Linked DNA regions of Homo sapiens: region 1 is linked to region 2. Evidence: fine-mapped expression QTL. Tissue or cell type: tibial nerve. Region 2 holds a variant in brackets; the other region holds the start of a gene. All regions are shown on one strand. Distances are between the middles of the regions.

Region 1 (8,102 bases), 37 kb after region 2:
TTGTGTTGTTGTCAGAAGCTAAACAAGGCAGCCGCGTCCAGCAGGGACCACAGCTTGTATTTGCCAGTGGCCAGCTCAGGGCCTGATGCGTGACAGCATCTCCCTACCAGGGAAAGAATGACTCCATGGTTAGACATGTATTGTGTGCGTATCCTTTGCTACACGCAGGGTGGGGCCGCCAAATGAAAGAAAGACCCAGCCTGGTATGCCCACAGCAGTGCAGGGTATTGGAAAGACTGGCAGACTCTAGCTCTTCTCCTAGTGGGAGGAATCTGGTTCTCCTCCAAGCCCTGCAGTACCACTTAAACAGGCTTGATTTGAGGCAGGACTTCCTGACCTGCATTTTTTATCTGTCTTTCTCTTTGCTGGCCTCCTTCCTCAGACCATAGCGCTTCTAGAGCAGAAAACCCAGCCTGGTGCACAGTGGGTCTTCAGAAGCAGCTTGGTGGGTAAACGGACGTGGATTGATACTTGGGGCAGTATGCAACCTCTGTCCTGCAGGTTAAGACTTCCTCTAGGGCCAGGTGCAGTGGCTCATGCCTGTAATCCCAGTACTTTGGGAGGCCAAGGTGGCAGTATTGCTGGAGCCCAGGAGTTCAAGACCAGCCTGGGCAACAAAGTGAGACCCTGTCTCTACCAAAAAACAAAACAAAACAAAACAAAACAAACACTTCATCTAGTGGTTCATTCATAAATATTTTGTGAGCATCTACTGTGTGCCCAACATTAAAGCTATTGCAACCAACAGCTTCTCCTAAGGCAGATGTGCCACAGAGACCGATGGGTCCATGGCTGAGCTGCTTGAGCAGGGAACAAACTATGTGTTCCCTGAAAGTCCCCACCAGGCCAGGAATTCTCATCCTGAGGCATCTACAGAGGCCTGGCAGCCCCTGCCCACCTGGTTCCCAGGCTTACTGCCTTCTGCCCCATAGAAATGGGCCCCTTAGGGCTGTTTGGTGAGTGTGCTGTCCCCTTTGAAGGGTGGGTAATGGCTTGGTGTCTTCCAGATTCAACGTCCATCAGAACAGTTCATGCCCAGTCACTGGCTCTGCGCCAAGAACCTGCCTGGCAGGAAGACTGCTTGTGGGGAGACGGCAGAGGCAGGATACAAGGCCCTTCCTTGGAATTCTCCCCAGTGTCCCTGCCTCCTCTTCTCAGCTGCCCATGAGCTCCTGGAAGGCCATGAGCCTCATTTCCCTCCCGACCTAGCAAAATGCAGTTAGCCCTCAATATTCACATACATAATTGGATTTCTTGTTGAAGGACAGTCTCATGCCTCCAAGCTCAAAGGGCCCACACAGATCATCACGTTTGATGCACCTATTTTACAGATGGGCAGAGTGAGGCTCTGAGAGGGGATGTCCTCAATCCTTTTGGGTTCTCATAGCATTCTCACGGGTCTTTTGGGCTGACCTGGGTGAAGCAGGCAGCATTCCCTGGCACTAAGCCTTGCCTATTCACATTTGTGAGTGAAATTTGGAAAGGCCTTGGTGCTTAGCCACTGACCTGCTGCCTGCCTGACCTTTCAGGAAATGCAGTCCCTTGCCTGGAAATGGCTTTGTGGACAGTGAGTCGTGTGGTATCACCCACACAATACAGTGGGGAGAACTGGACAGTTTCCCCAGTTTCTCACTGGGCCCCACCGCCTCAATCCTCCTTCAAAACCTGCCTGAAATCCAACTCTGTCCTCTTGGTCTTTTTGTGACTCTTTCACCGGAGATGTCCTTCTCCTCTGTGGCTGCACATTTATCCAACACACCCTTTAAGATCCAAATGCCACCTCCTCCTGGGGGCCTTCCTCGGTTTCTTTCCATCCCTTAATCAGCTTCACAATTCAATTGATCTGCATCTCTTTGGTGGCATTTATCACATTCTCCTTATATTATCTTACCTTTATGCAGTTGCAGGGGGTTCTCCATGACATAGTGATGTCTGATGTCTCCCATCCAGACTCTCTTCCCTACCCCAAGTTGCTGTGCGTGTCTCCTGTCCACATTACAAATGCGTGCATGACCAGAAGGCAGGACCATATGGAAATTTTTGTCCCTGCCCCCACAGTGGCAGACCCTTTTCCCCCAGAGTCTTGTACAGGGGTTTGCATACTGTAGGAGTTAAAACAAATAACTTATTTAAATTACCAACGGTTTGAGCATCTATTGTATCCCAGGCTCCATGTGTCAGGCTGGGTGTGGGGACACAGAGATGGATCTGACAATGACAGCGCCATGTGATGTGTGCTGCAATCCCGGTGTAGGGCAGAGCAGCTCACCAGAGTCAGGTGAGCTCTGGCCTGCACCTAGAAGAATAACCAGGTTGTGAACAGGCAGAAAAGGGGCAGAGGGAGAACCTGGGAGGAAACAGTATGGAGAAAGCATCGAAGTAGTCAAGCTTACCTGAGCCTGGGTGCAGGTATCAGAGAGACTGGAGCTCAGGAGGCCGGATCTGAAGCTGGGGAGGCTGCTGAGGATCTGCACAGAACCCCTTAAAGCCTAAGATTTGGATCCTTATGACAAGATGCAGAAGTTTGGAGTTAGGTTACCTGGGTTCAAATCCCACCTCTACCACCTACCCGTTTATGTCAGCTTTCCCATCTGTAAATGGAGAGAAAAAAGCAGGCCTCCCTTAAACCCCAGCACTGTGTGGGTCAGGGTCTGGACTAGGGTGTGGCACATGCAGAGATGCAGCATACCAGGAGATGCCAAGAAAACTCAGCAACGGAGGTAAATTGCCCAAAGCAGTGCCCCAAACCCCTAAGTAATCAAAATAATATTTTAATTTTTTACTTTTAAAATATTTTTAAAAGTATCAAAATTAATGCAAAACCCCACAATGAACAAAATATCTAAAATGTAAATAAAGACAGGGTCTGCATGGTACCAAGTATGCAACTAAAAAAACATCAGTTATGATTGAAGAGGGAGTTCTCAACCTTAGGGGGCCGTGGACTTCTGAAAACCGGAGGAAAGCCCACGGCCCCTCTCCCCTGAAGAATGCACAAACATGCTCAATTTGTGCACAGTTTGGGGGTGTTCCTGCACTCCCTGGGGTTCGTGCACATGGAAGTTAAGAACTCTGGTTCAACATTGGGGGTGCGGGGGTGGCGGGGGTGGTTCCACGCGCCGGCCAGCAGCCTGCCAGTTCCCCAGTCCCGCGACTGGCCTCCCTCCTGGCAGCCATGGGTGCTCTGCCCTCTGCAGGAAGCAGCGCACAGCTATGCAGCTCCCCCAACCCCCCTACCTCCCCTCTCTCGGCTTGGGACTTTTCCTAAAGTTTGTTGAAACCAGACACCTTGCTCGACCGAGCCCGCGTGCAGCCAGGGTTTAAAAGGCCGCCTTCAGCGCCCCCTCCCCGCCCCCAGCGGAGACTTCAAAAGGCCCGGCGGGCGCCGCCGCCCCAGCACCTATGAGCCGCCCCCAGCTCTCGGAGCCCGCGCCGGAGCCCGTGGACGCAGAGCTGCCGAAGTTCGAGCGCAGGCGGACCGGGTCGGCGGCGCAGTCCCGCGCGCCCATGCCCCTCCCGGTGCCGCTGCGCTCCGCGCGCCCGCGCCCCGTTTAGGGAAGGGGACCTCGCCCCCCGCCCCCGCGCCCACGGCTGCGGGGACCCATGAATACAAATGCCGTTAGGCGCCGGAGGAAGGACCGACCGGCCAGCCTCGCACGTAGGGACCCAGTAAGTGCTTGGGGGCTCCTGGAGCGGTGCGAAGTGTTATATGCCTGTGTGTGCGCGCGCCTAAAGGTGTGCGCGTATGGGGAGGTGGGTACACGCGTGAGGAGTGAATGCGTGTGTGCACATGTGCGGTGGGCACTCTCGGAGAACTGTGTGCAAGTGAGGGTGTGCGCGCGTGTGTCCACCCGGGGTGTGTACATGTGTGGGGGCGATATGGCCAGGATAGCGTGCATTTGTGCCTGTGTAAGCATCCGTGTGCATGCTTCTGCGAGTGTAGAGTATCAGCGTGCGCCTGAGCCCAGATATCTGAGGATGCGTTTCGTGTGAACCTAGGAAGGGTGCGTGGCTGTCCCAGAATGGGACCGTGTGTGAGCGTGTGTCTGAGTTTGGGGAAAGGGTGGATACGTGTGGGAGTGTGTGTGTGCACCGGTGAATAAGTGTAACTTTGCTCGTGAACGAGTGGCAAGAGGTGGTAGAGGCGGAGGGAGCTGTGGTCCCAGGGCTGGACTGGAGTTTTGGGTGTGAGAATTTGCCCGGGGGCCAAGGTGTGCAGCTCTTAGCTCCCGGATGGGATCCGAGGGAGTTTTTGTCGATTCTGGGGAGGTGCGTGGTTAGTGGTGGTGGTGGGGTGCGGTTAGATTCCAATTGCTGACAGAAGGGAGAGAGAGGGTGGCAAACCCTTAACAAGCCCACCCTATATGTTCTCCAGGGCGCTCCGAGTCTGGGAGCGCAAACTTTTGGTGGGCGGTGGGGATCACGATACTGGTTGTCGTGGGCGTCTGGACACCAAGTTCTGGTCCTAGCTCCGTCCCTGAAACTGTGGGTTTCTTCCAGGAGTAGAATTTGGCCCTTCTCCCCTACCCCAACCCCCCATTGGAGGACCCCCAGCCTCACCAGTCAGAAGTTCCTAATCTCAGAACGGTGATCAAATCACCGTGAAGCCCTGGGCAGCCCCTTCCTCTCTGTGAATCTGTTTCCCCATCTATACAAGGAGGAGGGGGGCGGGTGTCCCATCGGGGCTGTAGTGGGCCAGCTGAGGCTGTACCCTTGGCTCCGGCCGGCAGGGGGCAGCAGGGGGCAGCAGAGGGCGGCCGGGAGCGGGGAGGAGGGAAGGTGGAGAGCCACCGCGGGCCGAGACTTTAAATCGCCTTCATTTCCCCCAAATCCTTCCTTTTCCTCTCCTCCCCCAGGCCGGCGGGGAGGCAGCTTCCACCGCCCTCCGCGCGCCCTCACCCGGCCTTGCTCTGCCTCCGGGGACCGCCAGCAGCCCGCCTCCAAAAGTTTGATCATCTCTCTCTCTCTTTTTCTTGCTTCTTCTTCCTTTTTGGTGGAAGCAGAAAAGGACCGAGGCAGGGGCGAGCGCGGCGCCCGGACTCCTGGGACCATGGGCCTGGCGCGGGCGCCCGCGGGGCCCCAGCCGCGCTGCCTGCCTGCTCGGGCGCCCCTGGGCGCGGGGCTGCGCTGGGGGCGCGGGGGCCGCGCGCTCTAAGCCGGCCTGGCGCGGCGGGGCGGGGGGCTGGCGGCCCCATGGGGCGCGCCCACACTTGCCCCCCGGGCTCGGGAGCATGAAGTAGGGGCCTGCCATGGGAGCGGGATCGGCGCGGGGGGCCCGAGGCACAGCGGCGGCGGCGGCGGCGCGCGGGGGGTGAGTACGAACTCGGGGACGCCCCCTCCCTAGCTTCCTGCTGCTCCAATCTCGGGGAGGGCCGGGGTTCCCCGCCATGCGGTCGCTTCCAGCGGAACGTCAGCTTCCTGCCCCTTCCTGCGCCCCCGCGAGGCGGGACGCCAAGGGTTAATAGGGGCTGCGCCCCCGGCCGGGCGAGAGTTGGCGAACGCTGCCCGCCCTGCCGCGCCTGGCCCGGCTGCCCGATCCCGTTGGGGCGGGGGCAGAGCCAGCCCGGGGGTCGGGGGTGGGGGTGGGTGGTGGCGCCTGGAGCGGCCGGCGGGGTGCGGAGGGGGGCTTTTTGGATGCTTGGGGGAGGAGGGGGGTCTCCGTTTGGGGCCGTCTCGGTGTGTTCCGGTGTCTCAGTGTCTGCAGGTCCCAAGCCTGTACGTCTCCGTTTCTATCTGTTCTTGTGAAATTGTCCGCAAGTTTCTAGGTCACCAGGTCTCGGGTTCTGCTCCTGTCTCCGTGTCTGTGTGGCTCTGCACGTCCCCGCGTTTCTGGAAATCTCCGCGTGTTTGTGTTAGTCGGCCTGGGTCTGTGTGTCTGTGTTTCCTGCTTCTCGGTTCCTGTCCCTTTCACGTGTGTAAGAGAGAAAAAGTGAGAGCCAGCATGTCAGAGCAGAAAGGGCCCTGGGCGATCACTGTGCGGAACCCCTCAGTGTACAGATCGGGAGACAGGGCCGGAGAGGGGCAGGGACTCTCCCAGGAGCGGCTGCGCGGAGCTGGGGCCCAGAGGCTGGGATTCCCAGCGTGTGGAGTAGGAGTTGTAAGAGAGAGTGAGCCTGTGCTGGAGCCGGCGCAGCGTGTGGGTGTGTGTGGGAGCCAGCAGCATGCAAGCAGCCCGTTGGGGCCTGTGGACGGCGCTCCTCTCTTTCCATCCTGCCCCCAGGACACCAGGACACTCCCCAGAGGCTGTTAGGGCTGTAGCTGGGCCCTGCCCCCTTTGAGCTGGAGTCCGCGGGATGACACCCCCTCCTTTCTTCCCCATGTCTTGGAAAAAGCTGGCTGTTTGCGATTCCCCCGCCCCGCACCCCCTCACCACAACACACACACACACACACACACACACACATACGCGCGCGCGGCACCAGTGAGCACACTGCTGACTCATTTTCTCCAGAAGACCCTGCGCCAGGGTAGATGCCAGCAGTTGGGCAGAAAAGTGGTGCCAGGCGAGCACCCCATGGTGGGGCTCCAGCTGTGGGCAAGTGGGCAGTCAACACTGCTCGGAGGCCCAGTCTCTGCCTTCTCCTGCCTCCCTGCCTCCCTTGACATCACGTTGTCCTGCATCATGTGCGCTCTGGCGCCAGCATACCTCTGCTCTCCAGCATGCCTCTGCTCTCCAGCATGCCTCTGCTCCTGGACCCTTCTGGCCGGACCAAACTCCATGTCATGTCTATGGACACATCCCTGGCCTCTGCCTCCTTCTGTTTCCTCCCTGTACTCAGAACATTCTCCCTCTCCTGTGCCTCCACCAGCGCTGCGGACCCTCAGCAGCCAGCAGCCTCCTGGTGGTCTCTGTCCCTTTCTGAGCACACTCCCCTGTTCTTTGTTGGCATTTTCTCTCCTCCATCTCTGTCCAGGGACCCTCTTGATACCCACATGCCTGGCTTGGCTACGCAGAGTAACATATCCACTGGTGGTAGGGGACAGCAGTGAGACACTCACAGAATCATGTTGGTGGGAGGCAGGCGGCACCACAGGAGGGCCATGAGGCTTGCCATCAGGCAGGCTCGAGTTTGAATCCTAACTCTGCTGTGCCAGCTTGGGTGAGCCACTCTGCTGCTTGTTTTTCTCTTCCACAAAACCGGCACCTTATTCCTAGCTGGCTGGGTTTTGTGAAGATGAACAGGACCATGCTTGTAAAGGGCTTAGAACAGGGCCTGGCATGTAATAAGTGCTCAGTAAACGGCAGCTGGTATTTGTATTATTCCCTTCATGTTGAATGGGTGTGTGAGTCAATGGGAAAGTTCTGGGCTGCATCCTCTCCAGACGATGACCTGTCTGTGTTCCCATGGAGGACGTGGAAGCTGTGAAGAAAGCCCAGGCATAGCCGTCTGGGCACAGGGGGTCTGGCCAGTCCATGGAGGCAGGTGGGACAGGTCCACCCCACTTGATGAGCTGTAGTTCCAGCTAGCTCCCTTTTCAGCTTTTACCCCATGCGTGAACAGCCAAGCCTAGTGTCCACAGGGCCACTTTCCCTGTGTGTTTCTGTGGCCTGGGTCTCAGCTCAGAGCCCTCAGTGACTGTTGAAGCTGGTGTGGGTTTCTAAGATCCTGTGTGTTTCCAGGTAATAAGGATGGAAGAAAACTATCCAAGCAGTCTGCCGGTTCTGGCAGTGTGGTTACCCAGGAGTAGCCCCATTTGGTGCACTGGCAGAGGGCCTTTTGCAAGGGCATAGAAACACCTGGGTTTCCTCTTTGGAGGGCTGTGTGGCCAGACGATGTTTCCATGTGATGTTTCCTCGCGGCTCCCGTTTCGGCTGCCTCCTGGCCTCCCTGGCCTCTGTGCTCTGGTCTTCCTGACATTCTGGAGCCCTGGGTTTGCAGAGACAAGGCCCACAAGACAAGTGGTGAAAACAGAAGTCTGGAAGAACAAAGCCCTGAGCCAGCACAGGCACTAACCATGATTAGCAGTAGCCTAAACAGGATTGGAACGGGAGCAAAAGAATCGGCAGGGCCTCCCTCTGAGAGCCAACTTTCCAGGCCTGGAGCTGACTTAGATGGCTCGTTGGCTCCCTGGGTTGCATCTCTGTTCCTGCTGGTGAAGGC
Region 2 (8,102 bases):
TCAGTGTTGTCATAGGTACATGAGGAGGAGTGTGGGCTAGAGGCATCAAAAGCCCTGCCTGCTCCAGGGACCTGGGATTTCTGAGAGCAAATGCTGCCTCTGCCTCCCTGGGGGGAGACACAGCCACCCCCTCCCCCAACACCAGATGAGACTCTCATCAATCCCAAGACCGAGTCCTATCCGGCTTAGGTGGATTGATTAGCACCACTTTCTAGGGCTTTGTACCCTTCATTTCTTCTTGCCAGCTCCATCTACCTAGACCCCTCTCTTTTCCAGTTCTCAGAAACTGGACCCTCTCTTTTCTCCCCAGAATTAAAGGGGTGCTGGATTCTCTTAGTCTTGCCTCCCTCCCTTGGCACATATGCCCACTTTGGTACTACTACTACTATGACCTCTACTAGTATTGCTGCCACTGTCTTCTCGTAGTCCTTCTAGTCCTTTACTACGACCCTGCCAATGCTTCTACTATTACTGCTGGCACTTCTTACTATGACCACCACAACCAGTACTTCTACTACTATTGCTTCTACTGCCTCTACTGCATCCCCCGACAAATCTCATCTTGAATTGTAATCCCCATGTGTCAAGAGAGGGACCTGGTGGGAGCTGATTGGATAATAGGGGCAGTTCCCCCCACACTCTTCTCCTGATAGTGAGTGAGTTCTCATGAGATTTGATGGTTTTAAAGTGTGGCACTTCCCCTTTGCTCACTCTCCCTCTCTCCTGCCATCTTGTGAAGGTGGTGCTTGCTTCCCTTTCGCCTTCCACATGATTATAAGTATCCGGAGTCCTCCCCAGACATGAGGAACTGTGAGTCAATTAAACCTCTTTTGTTTATAAATTACCCAGTCCCAGGTAGTCTCTTTATAGCAGTATGAAAATGGTCTAAAACATAGTACTTCTTACTCTATTACCACCAGTATTTCTACTGCAGTACTGCCACCAGGATTGCTTCTCTTGTTATTTATACTACTACCACTTTGCTACTACCGTAATGATGACTACATACTATTTGCAGCTACTGCTAATAGCAGCAAACGTTATGAATCACACACAATGGGCCAAAGACTGAGCTAAGCACCCTGTGTCAATTGATACAATTTAAACCATGGCAACAGACATCTGTGGTGTAATATTATTGACAAAAAGAGTCAAACTCTGTAAAATGTTTATTTTATTATTAAAAATTATTATGAAATTGAAAATTATTATTAAAAAGAGATTTATTCTGAGCCAAATAAGAGTGACCATGGCCCATGACACAGCCCTCACTCAGGAGGCCCTGAGAACACGGGCCCAAGGTGGTTGAGTGCAGCTTAGTATTATACATTTTAGGGAGACATGAGACATCAATCAAATACATTTAAGATATACATTGGTTCAGTCTAGAAAGGCGGGACAACTTGAAGCAGAGTGCATGTGGGGGCTCCCAGGTTTATAGGTAGAATAAAAAAATTTCTGATTGGTAATTGGTTAAAAGAGTTATTATCAATAGAAAGGAATGTCTGAGTTATGATAAAAGGTTGTGAAGACCAAAGTTTTATCATGCAGATGAAGCCTCCAGGCAGCAGGCTTCAGAAAGAATACATTGTAAGTGTTCCTTATCAGACTTCAGGTCTGCGTTGATGTTAAATAGGGGTCAGCTTTTCCTGAATCCCAAAAGGGAGGAGGGCTACTGAGGCATGTCTGACCTCTGCTTCCCATTATGGCCTGAACCAGTCTTTCAGGTGAACTTTGGAGTGCCTTGACCCAGAGGAGGGAGTCCAGCTGGTTGGAGGGCAGGGGGCTTAGAATTTTATTTTTGGTTCACAATATCCTCCCTCCTTTATTGATGGGGAAACTGAGCTTTGCAGAGGCTAAGTAACCTGCCCAAATTCATAGAGACAGTAAAAGACTGAACCAAGACCTCAACCAGCCACCTAACGACAGGGACCAAGTCTGAGATCTAGAACCTTTCTCCTTTGTCCTTTGTCTACCTTCAAGAGTATATCCTTGTCTTCTCTTCAGTCCTCTGGAAAGAATTACTTGAAGTCAAAGAAGGAAAGGGGGCCTACCTCTACAGATGTCTAGAATGCTGTGAGCAATGTACATAGTAGGTGTTCAACACATACTGTTTGAATAAATTGGATTCTAATGATAACCTTTTGAGGTAGGAACAAGGATCTTGATGTTGCAGTTGGGGACACTGAGATTTTCAGAAACGCTGTGGTCTAGCTAAGAGGTGAAGTTGGGACCAGATGCTAGAATTCAGTCCTTTCATGACCTCGAATACAAAGTGAACTGTCCGACCCGACCACAAAGTCTTCTGTGTGCATTGTACGTCACGGTTTGCAAAGCTCACACATCTGTTATTTAATTCTCACAACAGCCCTCAGAGGGGGTGATCGGTTCCACTGTAATGATAAGGAAAACCAGATTCAGAATGCTAAGGCAGCTTTGGAAGGGCTCATGGAGAGGCAGCAGCAAATCCAGGATTGAACCAACTCCTCCCTACTAACCCAAGGGTGGGAGCCTCCCAGCGAAGACTCCAAGAAGTCTCTCTTGGGACAGCCCACCGCCACTCCCTGTCCAGCCACCTCAGCCCCTAGGGTGGGCAAGCCCATGGCCCCAAGGGGTGGAGAGAACCGGTTATTTCCAGCCTGGTACTTAAGGGCTGGCCAGGGAGGAGGGAGGAGGGTGTGAGCCGGCTGGCAGGCTCTGTGCTCCCAAGAGGGTCTGGCCTTTGGCTGCTGAGAACTGGGCAGGGGGTCAGGAACTCCTGTCCAAGCCACCCAGGCCAGCTGAAGCTGGGCAGGTGTCCCAGGAGAGGGCAGGCCACTCCCTCCCCAAAAAGGCAGGAGTATGCAGCCAATATGCACACAGGCGGCTCATTCAGCCCCTGCAGCTCCTTGGCCCTGCCCTGGGCCGTGGCCCCCAGGCTGAGGCACTGCCCCTGCTGTTCTCGGGAGATGGAAACAGACAGCAGTTCTGATCAGGACCTGTGGGTCAGTGAAGAGCAAACACATCCTGCTCTGAGCACCGATTGGGTGCCATCCATCCTCTGCAGCTCTGTAAGGTGGAAATTCCCGCCTCCCACGGTTCCTCTCCCACTTGTGTGTGGAATGCGATCACCACGCTGCCTCCCTTTCAAAGCGCCCAGTGTTTCCTAACTCAGGACCTTTGCACATGCTGTCCCTATGCTGGGGGTACCTTTCCTTTGGCTTCTCACGTGACTGGCTCCTTTGTCTTCAGGTCTGACTGTAAAAGGTCACCTTTCAGTGGCATCTTCCCTAGCTCCCCTCACTCATAATTTTCCCCACCTCCCATGCACACACCTTGTCTCTGTCACCCTCCTCTACTTTCTCCTCAGCATTCTTATTTATTTATTTATTTATTTATTTATTTATTTATTTATTGAGATGGAGTCATCTTGCTCTGTCACCAGGCAGGAGTGCAGTGGCGTGATCTCAGCTCACTGAAACCTCCGCTTCCCGGGATCAAGTGATTCTCCTACCTCAGCCTCCCGAGTAGCTGGGATTACAGACACGTGCCACCACGCCCAGCTAATTTTTGTATTTTTAGTAGAGATGGGGTTTCACCATGTTGGCCAGGATGGTCTCGATCTCTTGACCTTGTGATCCCCTCTCCTCGGCCTCCCAAAGTTCTGGGATTACAGGTGTGAGCCATCGCGCCCTGCCCATATTTATTTTTTATTGATTTTTGTTTGTCTCTCTCCCCATAGGAATAAAGAATCTATTTTATGAACTATCAGGTCCCCAAGGTCCAGCAGAGGGCTTGACACATAGAATCAACATTTATTGAATGAATAGATGGAAGGGAAGTGAAGGCTCTTGTCCACCTTGTCCATGTTCTCATTGTTAAAGAAGGCATCACCAACATTGAAACTCGGGTCTGTCCGTCTCTAAAGAGGCCCCCATTTCACCTGTGGGTGTGCTCAGTGAGGACACCATCTTCCCTGCAGTGATTTTTTTTCTCTGCCCCAAAGGCACGTTCTTTATACATGGGGCATGGTGTCTCCTCCAACTTCCCATCACACGTCCTCCCGCCTCTGCTTGCATATCTCCAAAAGACAGGGAGCTCACCCCATCCACTGCAATATTAGAAAGTCCCTTCCAAGACTCTACGACCTTCAGAACAATGGAACGGGCAGTTCTTCACAATGTTCTCAAATGCTGAAGAGGAAGAATTGCTGTCGTTAGCACAAGGCTGTGGACTTGGAC[A/G]ATACACTTTTCTGTTTATTCATTGATTTTCTGAGCCCCAACCATGGGCCAGGGCTGTGGTGTCGAACTAGAGAGCAAAAGAGCCTTGGTGGCCGCCTTCTCGATGATGTGTCAGGTCCACTGTGGCCTTTGGGCCCTAGAGTGGTGGTGGCAGGGGGGTGATGGAGGAGGCATGTGGAGTGGATCAGATGCTTCTTGAAGTCGATAGTGCACACAAGTCACCCAGGGATCTTACTAGGATGCAAATTCAGGGACAACAAATCTGGGTAGAGGTTCTATGTTTCTCCTAAGCTCTCGGGGGATGGTGATACCACTGGTGCATGGACCACACTTTGAGTAGCAAGGTAGAGACTCAACTGACAAAAGAAGACAGTGAAGCCTAGAGCAAGTCAGGGACTTGCCTCGGGTCACTGGTCAGGCAGCAGGAGCTGAGAAGGGACGGCCTACCTCCGCGGGCCAGGGCTCTGGAATTCGTGGGGCAGGCTGGGCTGAGTATGCCTTTGTGAGGCATGGCATACCTGGACTCACCCGAGCTGCCCGTCCCTGCCCATGAATAGTGGGCCTCTTTCCTTCCTGCATAAGGCTTGGCGGGCGCAAGCCCACGGCCGCCCCCTCCCCTGCACACACACTTACACACACTCACACACCCCTGCCGGCTCAGCTGCCCTCCCTGTTTGGGGAAAGTCAACAAGAGCATTTGAAAAGTCTTTCTGTGTGGAGAATCTGTTTGTATAGGGGGAGGAAACGGAGAGCTGGCCAATAGGTAGAAATATTAATGAAGCTTGTTATAAAGGGCCCATTCACGGCTCTCCGAGTAAATAGGGCTCTTGTCGGGCTGCCACGTTATCTGCCAAGTTCAAGAATGTGGTTTGAAAAAATAGAATTTAAAGGGGTGAGGTGGAGCCTTCAATGGCTGGCCTGCTGGAGCTGGAGCCAACTCCAGGAGGAGCCTGTGCTGTGGGGGGCTGTGGCTGGGGACACTGGAGGTGCTGGGTCTTGTGGTGAAGGCTGCCTGGGAAGAGGGGCTGGTGAGGAGCCGCTGGAGTTCCGACTTAGAGAGAATTCCTGTCCACCGGTGTGGAATGCCCCGTGCCATTCCTTCCTCCCCTTGGTGCCTGGCACAGGGCTTGCAGATCCTCTGCTTAGCCCCCCAACCCAGTCTACCTTAACTCTCCTGCCTGGGGATTTGCCTCTTGGGATGTTGGTGGAGGGGATCTCTATATGGTAGGAGGAGGGCTTTGTAGTAATTCTTAGCCATAATGCTGTGCTATTCCACAAACCTCAGCCATCTTCTCCCACGCCCTTACGAGGTCCTACTTTATACATTCTTACCAGATGCTACATAAGAAAGAGCATAAGAGACTGAGATGTTTGACTCAGAGAAGGAAAGTGACCAGCTCAAGGTCACTCAGCAAGTGTGTAGCAGAACTGGGACTTGCTTCAACCAGTTTCCTGTTGGGTCATTGTTCCCGGCACTGAAGATAGTGCCTGGCCTGAGGGGCTGTCTTGTCATTTCACATGTACAGTGTCTTACTTTTAGCCCTGGACTTAAAGCAACTTATAAGCAAGGACCGTGTCTTATGCTTAGTTTTCCCCTGGCCAGCTGTGTGGTCTTGGACAGGTGACTTTGCCTCTCTGAGCCTCAGCTTCACCATTTGTAAAATGGGGTCATTGAGACCAAGCCCTCCTTTCCAGAAGACTCAGTGAGAGGATGTTGGTGAAGTGCCCAGTGCTATGCCAGGCCCTCGGTGGGTGGCCCAGGAACAGTGGCTGAGGGCACTTCTTTTTCTGTTCCAGCCCACAGTGCAAGGGTAGAGACTCCAGGAAGACTGTCTCCTTTACACTTGGACCCTAGAAGGCTGGTCTGTGCTGAGGGTCATAAGAAGCTGGTAAATTGAGAATCAGGGGTTTCTGCCACCCATGGCATTAGGCGGCAGAGATACATGTGTGTGTGAACTATCACGAGGGTCTGTCAAACAGGCCCTGCAGGAAGCCCAGGCAAGCCCGGGTGACCTTTCATCCTTTCCCCCAGAGAGCTGCACAGAATACACCTCTGTCAGACAAGGGTTAACCTGGGTGGGAGGGAATATTTACACTGGCTTTTCTTTGCAAATAAAAGTTGGTGGCTGGGTGGGGGTGGGGGGGTGGGGAGGGTCGGGGGGTGTCCCATAAAACAAAAAGGAAATAATCTATGCAAAAACTAAATGGAAACGTGTTTTAAAAGACTCTACCAAGAGCTTGCTGAGTGACCCTGAACAGTGGGGACTTAGGGAAAAGTTGACAGCATCCCCTTTAAGAAGAAGTGGTGTAGCATAGGTAGGGCCATGAGCACAGGCTTTGGGGCTCACAGACCGAGGTTAGAATGTGGGCTCTGCTCTTCTCTGGCTATGTGACCTTGAGCAAATCGTGGACCTCTCTGGGCTTCCATTTCTTTGATTTGTACAAGAAAAGAGAAGAGAGGGTTAAAGTATGTGAAGGTCCCTGGCACTTCATGGATGCTCATTAAATGTCAATTTCCTTTCCTTTCTGGGCCTCTTGGCAGGTCGAGGGGAAGTGTCTGACAGGTCTCACCAGCCAGACTGGAGAGAGACACAGCTCTGCAGGTCTCAGTGCCTGCACACCAGCTCAGTAGCCTGATGCTGACTATGCCCCTAGAGCCCTTTACAGTTTGTAAGGCATTCACCTACTTGCCGTTAAAGCCTCCCAAGAATCCCATAAGGTGGTCATGGCAGCATTTACTACCTTATGGTGCTGTGACTGGGAAAGGGTAAGGGACAAGAACCCAGTGCTCTGGGGCGGGGCCCAAGTCTGTCTTCATTCCTTCATTCCTTTAGCAAATATTGATTGAGGACTTGTTATGTCCAGGCACTATGCCAAGCATGGGAGATACATAATGAATAAAAATCGACACAGATGGGTGGTTGATGGATGGGTGGATGGGTGGATGCTGGTCAGATTATGGGTGGGTAGATGGATAGATAGATGGATGATGAATGGATGGGTGAATGGATAGATGAATGGATGATGGGTAGATGGCTGGCTGGCTGGATAGATAGATGATGGATGGATGGGTTGATGGATGGATGGATGATGGATGGTAGATGGATAATGGATAGGTTGATGAATAGATGGGTGGATAGATAGATGGATAGATGGTTAAATGATGGATAGGCAGATAAATAAATGAATGGATGATGGATAGATGGGTAAATGGATGGATGGATGGATGGATGGTGGATGGGTGGCTATGTAGATGAATAAGTGAGCGAAAGAAGGATGACAAGTCCCTTGAGGACAGAGCCCTGGTCTATTCTTTCCACCACTGGGTCCCCAATACTGAGGATGGTGCCTGATACAGAGGGATTAACACTTGCCATATGAGTGTCTTCTTTGGTTGAGTAGACTCAAGAACCAGGCTGCCTGGGAGTCTGAGACCCAACTCTGCAACTTCGTAGCTGTGTGGTCAAGAAGAAGTTACTCAATCTTAAGTGTCCTCAGTTTCCTCATCTACAAAATGAGGTTGACAATACTTTATAGGTTGTTGTGAGGATTAAATGAGTTAATACATGGACATCCCTTAGATCAGAGCTGTGCCTGGTGCACACCAAGTCCCACGTAAGCATTGGCCACATTGATCATTTTTATGGTTTCACATCTGTGCTCCCTCCCGTCTCCTGAAAAAGATAATAAATCCTCTTAAGGCAGGGCTCTGGGCTCTGGGTGCCCTGCCTACTATGCCTCCTAGTAAAAATATGTGTTGACTCTGTGGCTTCAGAGAAAGGAAGATCTTAAATCCAAAGCAGGGGCAAAAAAACTCCAGGGTACACATTCCACTGGGGCCAAGGGCACAGCTGGCCCCTGACTGAGGGAGGCAGGATGGCA

Evidence for each region. PIP is the estimated chance that this variant, and not a neighbour inherited with it, causes the effect.
Region 1: COL27A1 starts here. The variant in region 2 is fine-mapped to the expression of COL27A1 in tibial nerve (GTEx, PIP above 0.99).

Annotation. Positions count from the first base shown.
Region 1 is chr9:114,150,702-114,158,803 of GRCh38, forward strand. COL27A1 (collagen type XXVII alpha 1 chain) reads left to right here and starts at 4,836. Exons shown (of 61, transcript NM_032888.4): 1 at 4,836-5,311. The coding sequence starts at 5,250. It overlaps LOC105376225 (a long non-coding RNA gene), which reads right to left and starts at 3,567. Exons shown (of 5, transcript XR_930256.3): 1 at 2,394-3,567; 2 at 2,139-2,296; 3 at 1,892-1,986. RefSeq lists an enhancer at 2,643-3,164 and silencers at 4,701-4,820, 5,708-6,002.
Region 2 is chr9:114,113,531-114,121,632 of GRCh38, forward strand. No RefSeq gene overlaps it. Among named protein-coding and RNA genes, the nearest start is that of KIF12, 18 kb to the left of the region's middle. RefSeq lists enhancers at 1-379, 6,139-6,433. The variant A/G (reference allele first, on the strand shown) is at 4,221.